Linked DNA regions of Homo sapiens. The protein of the gene in region 2 purifies or fractionates together with the protein of the main gene of each other region. This does not show direct contact. Each region holds a gene or a part of one and is shown on either strand. Other genes may lie near its edges.

Region 1 (3,500 bases), on a different chromosome or scaffold from region 2:
GGATTCAGAACTCTAGGGTGGGCTTAACAGTCTCTGTTTTAACAAGCCCTCATGGTGATTCCATGCTGGTTCAAGTTTGAAAGCACTGGATTAAAACGGTAGCCATTTATTTAGCTCATGATTCTGTAGTTTGGCAATTTAGGCTGCAGTCAGCTGGGTGGTTCTGGTCTCAGCTGAACTCCTTCAAGTTTGTCATCAGCTGTTTATCACCTTTGCTGGTCTTGTCTGGCTCTCTCACTTTGGGACTTCAGCTAGGACACTGAGCTGATCTGGCTCTCTTCTGCATGGGCTCCTGTTTTCCTGCAGGCTAGCCTTGAGCAGAATCCTGAGAGAATGGAAGCGTGCAAGGTATCTTGATGCCTAGCCTTGGAAATGGCACATCATCACTTCTGCATTGTCTTGTGTAGCAACTCACAAAGGTAGCTCAGATTCAAGGAGTGGAGAATTAGATTTCATCTCTTGATGGGAGGAGCTACAAAGTCTCATTGCAAAGATGTGTGTTATTAATTGGGAGTCATTGGATAACCCCTCTCAGGAAGAACCTTAAGAAGGTACTGTTTTGGGGTAGGACAGGGCACTCTGTTTCTTTCCCATCTACCTAGTAGGGGATAGATACTGCTTTCTTCTATAATATTCGGGCTAGGAAAAAATCCAAGAGTAGCTTAGGGTCCCCCCGTGATGTGAAGGGGAATTAGAGTGGAAGAGGTCATGGGAAAGTCTTGAGCTAGAGAGAGTACAAGTCCTTAATTCATCCTCTCCCAGGAACAAAGGGGAACTTCAAGGGGAGTGGACCCCAAATTGATTGTCTTGGCTTTCTCTGCCTTTTAAATACCTTTGGCTCAAAGAAACCACAAAATATGAGATGGCTGTTTCTCTCTTTGAGTCAGGGATTCAGACACAGGCTCTGGGAACATGACTTCAGCTTCGTGGAGCCAGGCCCTGCCTGGAAGCAGAATCTTTGTCCGTGGACATGGTGCCTAGGACAGCAGAAGACATTCCGGATGGGGTGTGATAGCTTCCTGGTTTGGACTTGGCAGAAGGCAATCCCCTGTGAGCAGTCCTCAGGAGCACTGGCAACACAGCAGTGCCATTGGCTCCCACCTGCCCAGGGTCACAGCTTGCCCACCCTTTAGGTATTTTTTTATTTTTATTTTTTTGAGACAGAGTCTCACTCTGTCGCCCAGGCTGGAGTGCAATGGCACCATCTTGGTTCACTGCAATCTCTGCCTCCCGGGTTCAAGCAATTCTCCTGCCTTAGCCTACCAAGTAGCTGGAGACTACATGCGTGTGCCACCATGCCCAGCTAGTTTTTGTGTTTTAGGAGAGACTAGTTTTGCCACATTGGCCAGGCCTGTCTCGACCTCTTGACCTCAAGTGATCCGCCCGCCTCGGCCTCCCAAAGTGCTGGGATTTACAGGTGTGAGCCACCACACCCAGCCCCATCCTCTAGTTATGATGATACTTTCTAAAGCTGAGAGTTGGGCCTGTGAATTATCTTATTGAGAGACAGAGCTTCACGGGATCTTAGAGGTTGGCACAGACGTTTACTAGCCCTGGTCAGATGCTAAGGCTCTGATGCCTCCTTAGCCCCGGCGTTGGCTTTGAGGCCATGTAGAATCACTCTGATATTCTTATTCACATCAACCTTTTGTTTTAATGTATTTGAAGATACCATGGTCTCTTTTAAATATTTTTTTCCCCGGGCCATGAACTTCACAGGTCTCTGTTTTTTATATAGGATAATAACACAATATTTGTAGAATAGTTTGGTTTGTAAAGCTCTTTGTAGAGCAGCTTTCACACATGGCTCACCAATTACCTCATTTGGTGCCCCTCACACTGGAGGCATGGTAGGAATTGGTGTCCTTATTACACAGAGGAGGAGAGCAAGGCTGGTGGTGGTGAAGTCACTCAGCCAGAGAAGCCAGAGTGTAACCTATTTCCTGGTACCAGGCTTTCTCTCCTGTTATATAGAACATCTTCCTGTCTCTGACCTCAGGGCGTCTCTCTTACCCTGGAGTCTCTACTTCCCATCCCCCATCCACACAACCCAGAATACACCCCTGTGGCTGGATGTGGCATTATTGGCTGTGAGTTGTCTGGCTGCTGCACAGTGTGCACAGACTCCCTCATACGGAGACTCACAGGACAGTCTGAAATGCTCATTTTTTTCAGTGGCCAGTCACAGTATTGGCACGTATCAAGCTTAGGGCCTGCTCAGCAAAGCACATGGCACCAATAATATTAGCCCTATTTTTATTATAAGCATCACTAAAAATTGCCATGTACTGTAGTCAAGTCAGGTCACAGTACACATCTGGTGTAGAGCAAGAGGAAGACTGTGAAATTCCCTCTTCCCTAGATCCTTAAGTGTTAGTCTTGGAAAAGAATTCAGAGGTCATTTCATTTAGCTTCCTTGTCTATCTGGTGAGGAGACTGAGACCCAGAGGTCTTGAGCAGCTTTCCAGGAGCCTCACAGCAAGTTAGTAATTTGTGTGGTTAGGTCATTAAGTTAGAGGTTAAGTTGTGAAACTGGCAAATAGGGCTATATTCCTGTCCTTAAAGAATGAGAGTGAAAGAAGAGGAAAAAGGCCTCCTTTAATTTGTTTTCCTGTCCATTTATTTGCTTGTTTTGGTAAATTAGGAGAGAGAGAGAATCCAAGATTCTAAACAAATATGTCAAATTACCAGCACTGGGTTGAGTTTGAACTGTGACCTCACGTGGTTTTTTAAAAGACTACGTTCAGAGGCTGGGCTCAGTGGCGCACGCCTGTAATGCCAGCACTTTGGGAGGCCTAGGAGGGCAGATCACTTGAGGTCACGAGTTCAAAACCAGCCTGACCAACATGGCGAAACCCTGTCTGTACTAAAAATACAAAAATTAGCCAGGCGTGGTGGTGGGCACCTGTAATGCCAGCTACTTGGGGGGCTGAGGCAGGAGAATCACTTGAACCTGGGAGGCGGAGATTGCAGTGAGCCAAGATTGCACCACTGTACTCCAGCCTGGGCGACAGAGCAAGACTCCATCTCAAAAAAAATAAAAAATAAAAAAACTAAAGACTATGTTCAGGATACTGTATTGCTGAAATACAAATGATATTCATAATGCAGTTTTGGAGAAATTTCAGCCAAGGATGGAAGCCTGGGGAACACTGTGTTCGTCCAATCATACTGCTAGGTCCTTAAAAGCATGGGCCCTGTCTTCACTTCAGTTTGTAGCTCCAACACCCAGTACAATTGCCAACAGAGAGAGGGTACTCAGGAGGCATTTTCTGAGTGACCACATGCGCAGTGGAACACTGACTCAGTGATTCCTCTCTCTCCCCTGCCTGTCTCCATCTGTCTCCCCTTGCCCCTGCCATAGGGAAGTCTAAGCAATTTGGCCTTTTTGAAATGAAAATAGTGTCTCAGAATCCCCGCAAAGCCTCTGGGTTTTCAGGAGTGTCCACTGAAGTCCCCCCTTCCCCAGGACCTTTGTCATTTGAGACATGCTCTAACCT
Region 2 (4,259 bases):
CACAGCTTTCCTGGCTTCATCCCCAACGCCCAGTGCATGACTTCACTCCTCTGGGACAGTTTCCACAGGTGTAAAATGAGATGCACAAACATGTCTTCCCAGACAGTTGGAAAGAATTAAAAATTAGATGTTGGATGCAAAAATCCTTCATAATGCACACAGTAGGGCTCCATAAATGCTCCTTCTCTTCACACTCACAGCCACTCTTGGCCCCATATGGGTCAGCAGGCAGGGGGCAGAGGAGACACCTTCCTCCTGGGTCTGGAGAGCCCCTGGTTTGCCCTTTGTGGCCAGGCTCAAAGGGGAGAGAAGTTTGACAGGACCTGGGCAGGGGAAGGGGTGGACTGGAGCCTGGCCAGGCCTTTACCCAAGTCCATGCTTTGACTTAAACCCCTCCAACCTTTTTTCAAGCTCCAGAGGTGGGAGAGAGCAGAACCTTATTCTCATCTCTCCCCAAAGGCCTCCCACCGTGTCAACTGATAGTGAGCCAAACAGATGTATGGTTAATGTCTAAACTGGGACACTTGCGAGGGTGAAAAGGACACAATTTGTAATGTATATACTGATCCGCTAGTGTCTATCAGTCAGTCCCAGCAAACCAACGTGTGCCATTGCTCCAGCTCATCATTTCCCATCCTAGCCACAGGCTCACTGGACCCTCAGAACATTCTGAGGCAACAATGCATGGGCGGCTCGTGGCCCATTTTACAGATATGAAATTAGAACTTTCCAGAAGCCATACTGCTGCTGGACAGGAAACCAGTTACTAATCATCTAAGTCACAGATCACAGTGACACTGTGGCACTTGCCTGTCCCTTCTGCTCACCCAAACCTCCCCATTTTGCTTTCATCTTAAGGAAAGGAGGAGAGTTGAAGACTCTACTAGCCTAAAGGTCCATGAAGCCTGACTCTGTCCCTGGTGTCACTCATTAGCCCCGTGACTTTGAGTAAGTAACTTAACTTCCCTGTCCCTCAGCTTCCTCATCTGTAGAATAGGAGTAACGACACCTGTCTCTCCAGGTTGAGAAAATAGGACACCTAGTTCAGGACCTGGCACATTTTAGGTGCTCAATAAATACTGATAGATTGAATAATTGGACTAATGGTGGCGTGGGCAACCCACAGTCAGTGAATAAATGTTAACTGAGCACCTACTATGTGTCAGGCTCTTTGTGCTAGATGTTTTCTATGCTCCATCTTCCTGAATTGCTCACACTCCTGTAAGAGAGGAGAGATTCTTATCCCCTAAGGTCGCACAGCAAAGACGACGCAGGGGGGTGGGCTGTTAGTGTTCCTTGCCCAACTGTGGAAAGGGAGTCCCAGAGAGGGCAGGTCGCTTGCCCAAGGTCACGCAGAAAGCCGAGGGTTTCCGTCGCGAACCCCCCTCCCCACTCGCTCAGGGCTCTCCAATCCGCAGCTCTGCGTGCGGGGGCGCGCGCATCCCCCCGCCGTCCGTCCGTCAGCTGTCTGTCTGGGTGTCTATGCGGGCGCAGCAGTGCACCCTTCCCCAGCCTCGGGCGCTGCGCAGGGACAGACAAGGCATTCGCAGCGCCCTGCCCGCGCTCCACGCCCGCAGCCGCCAGACGGCAGCGCCTGCGTCCGTGCCCGCCCCAGCCGGTGCGCGGGAGCCGCGGGGGCAAAGGCGCAGTGGCCAGCGGACCATCTCTCGTGCCCTCGCTCTCTGCGCTCCGGGGCAGCTGAGCCCCGGCCACCCGCTCTCCAAGATGAAGAAGCTCCAGGGAGCTCACCTCCGCAAGGTAGGGCACGAGGGCGGGGGCGCTGGGGGTGCACCTGGAGGAGGGTTGGAGAGACCCGCCCCCAACGAGGCCCCTGGGGAAGGTCTGAGGATGCACCCAGACCAGCTTCGGGCTCTGGGGAAGGCCCGACTCAGCTGGATAACAGGGAGGGTCAGGGTCACGGTCTGCGCCCCCACCTCTGCCCCTGCCATCTGGGGTTCGGGATGTAGTATGAGGGGAGTCCTGGTTCACTGGGCCAGGCCTATGAACAGGTGTCTGCAGTCCCCGGAGGCGCGGGGTAGGGGCGGCCGGGGCCAGGCACCCACCTCTTCCCCAATTCCACCCTGCTGCTCCCCGCCAGGAGCTGATTGCCGGGTGTGGGGGGTATTGGAATACCTGAGCGTTGAGCTGGACTCATCTGAGGGGTGGGGAGTGGGAGGCGGTCATCCATACTGAAGCCGGCTCCCTGAGCCTGCGGGAAGACTCTCCTCTTTCCTGCCTGCTCCCTCCCCGCCCCCTTAGCTTGCCTGCTGAGACCCCAGGCTGCCCCTCAGCAGGGCTGAAGGGAGGCAAAGACAGGGAGGGGGCTATCGGAGGCAGGAGGATATGATCAATGAAGATGGAAGCTGGTATGGGAGAGTGGCTGTGGGCCCAGACCTCAGGCTCTCCCTACCTTGCCTTGTGGGATTGGACCTCTCAGCCAAGCTGTCAGGATATGGGGAGGGGGAATACTGGGGGACGTTTTCTGGCTTGTACCAGTCCTAACTAAGGAGTCAGATCTCCTGAATACTATTTCTGCCGCTGCCACTTGCCTGGTGACTTTGGACAAGTTCATTCTCTAACCTGAACCTCCTCTGGCTAAGCCCTAGCCTGGAGGCACCAAAACAGGCCCCACTGGGTGTGTGAGGTGTGGGGAAGAATGCTAAAGGGCTGGTAGATGTGAGAAGACTGTTCTCAGGGGCTGGTGTTATCAACCTCCCTACATACACACACATTCACACTCACACTCACTCACACACACACTCATTCATTCAAGTTCTCTGCTCTGGGGCAGCTGGGCTTGGAACCACTGTGGTGTGTCTTTTTTCTTTTTCTTGTTTTTTTTTTTTGAGACGGAGTCTCGCTCTGTCACCCAGGTTGGAGTGCAGTGGTGTGATCTCGGCTCACTGCAAGCTCTGCCTCCCGGGTTCACGCCATTCTCCTGCCTCAGCCTCCCGAGTAGCTGGGACTATAGGCGCCCGCCACCACGCCTGGCTAATGTTTTGTATTTTTAGTAGAGACGGGGTTTCACCGTGTTAGCCAGGATGGTCTTGATCTTCTGACCTCGTGATCCGCCCGCCTCGGCCTCCCAAAGTGCTGGGATTACAGGTGTGAGTCACTGCGCCCAGCTGGTATGTCTTTTTTATTCACTGACATGAGTGACTTCTTGAGACCATTTGTGAGTCTCTTGGGTCCTGTTTCCATTCTTTTCCACTCTCCTTCTCTTCCCTCTCTGCCCTCCCTCCCCACAAGAGGCCCTGTCCCTCTTGCTGGGTGCTGGGCTGGGGGGTTAGCAAGCTTTATCTCATTTAATCCTTTAACACTTCCAGGGGCTAGGTCTTAGTAGCCCCACTTTATAAATAAGGCAACTGAGGCACAGAGGGGTGAGACTCACTGCTTACCTGCTGGCAGGCTAGGCAACCTAGAGCCAACAGGGCAGAGGGTTGGTTCTAGGTTGCTACCTCCTCTCAGGGTCCTTTCCCTTTTCTCAAGCAGAATTGGGCGGGAATGAGAAAATGCCAGATTTCCGCAAAGGAGCAGCATTGCTCAGAGATGAACACTGGACTTAGAGTCAGGGGATCTAGGTCCAAGTCTTGCTGTGCCTTTAACTTGCTGTTTGACCTTGGGCTCATCCCTTCTTCCTGAAACTTGGTTTCCTAATCTGCACAATGATGAAGCTGGACCCCAGATTCCTATTGTCTCTCTCTGTCCTGAAGAGTCTTGGCTTGGGCAGTCTTGAGTCTCCCAGCCCCTGCTGTGAGTCCCTAAAGGCGAGCATGCAGGTCTGACAAACTCAGCTGTGTGTTCCTGCATGCCCCTGGGGTAGGGAGTGGGAGATTCAGGAGTGGGAGGCTTACACCCAGGAAGAAGTATGAAGCAACTCATTCAGCTTCCAGCCCTGCCCCAGCTATTTGATTGCTTTCTTCCATCTCCCAACCAGCCCCATCCTCACTGTGCCAGCCTCCTGGGATTCACCCCATGGTGGGGTTGGGAACTCCAGTTGGGCTCCTGATTGGCTCAGCTTTGGAGGACCCTATCTCCTGCCCCTGGAGCAGAAGCAGGCTTCCCTCTGATTGGGGGAGGAGGGGGACGAGCTGGCAGCATCCTGCTCTTGGAACTCTAGTCACCATGGAAACAGAGAACCGGGACCGCTCCATGAGCATGGAAAGGGCAGCTTCTCTGGAGGGATCAGAGGATCCTCATTACTGGGACCTCCTGCTAACTGGCCTGAATGGTGCTGGGATGGGCGGGGGGTGTCTCAG

What was found. Proteins that work in one complex are often made in the same cells at the same time.
Region 1: the proteins of SLC6A7 (region 2) and PODXL2 purify together in Homo sapiens (affinity purification with mass spectrometry; one large-scale study listed by BioGRID and IntAct). This does not show direct contact.

Annotation. Positions count from the first base shown.
Region 1 is NC_000003.12:127,635,685-127,639,184, forward strand, and holds part of PODXL2 (podocalyxin-like protein 2 precursor), read left to right. Parts: intron 1-3,500. UniProt on the Homo sapiens protein: Acts as a ligand for vascular selectins. Mediates rapid rolling of leukocytes over vascular surfaces through high affinity divalent cation-dependent interactions with E-, P- and L-selectins.
Region 2 is NC_000005.10:150,188,603-150,192,861, forward strand, and holds the start of SLC6A7 (sodium-dependent proline transporter), read left to right. Parts: upstream 1-1,459; 5' UTR 1,460-1,482; coding exon of another isoform or gene 1,483-1,725; coding exon 1,726-1,758; intron 1,759-4,259. UniProt on the Homo sapiens protein: Brain specific sodium (and chloride)-dependent proline transporter. Terminates the action of proline by its high affinity sodium-dependent reuptake into presynaptic terminals.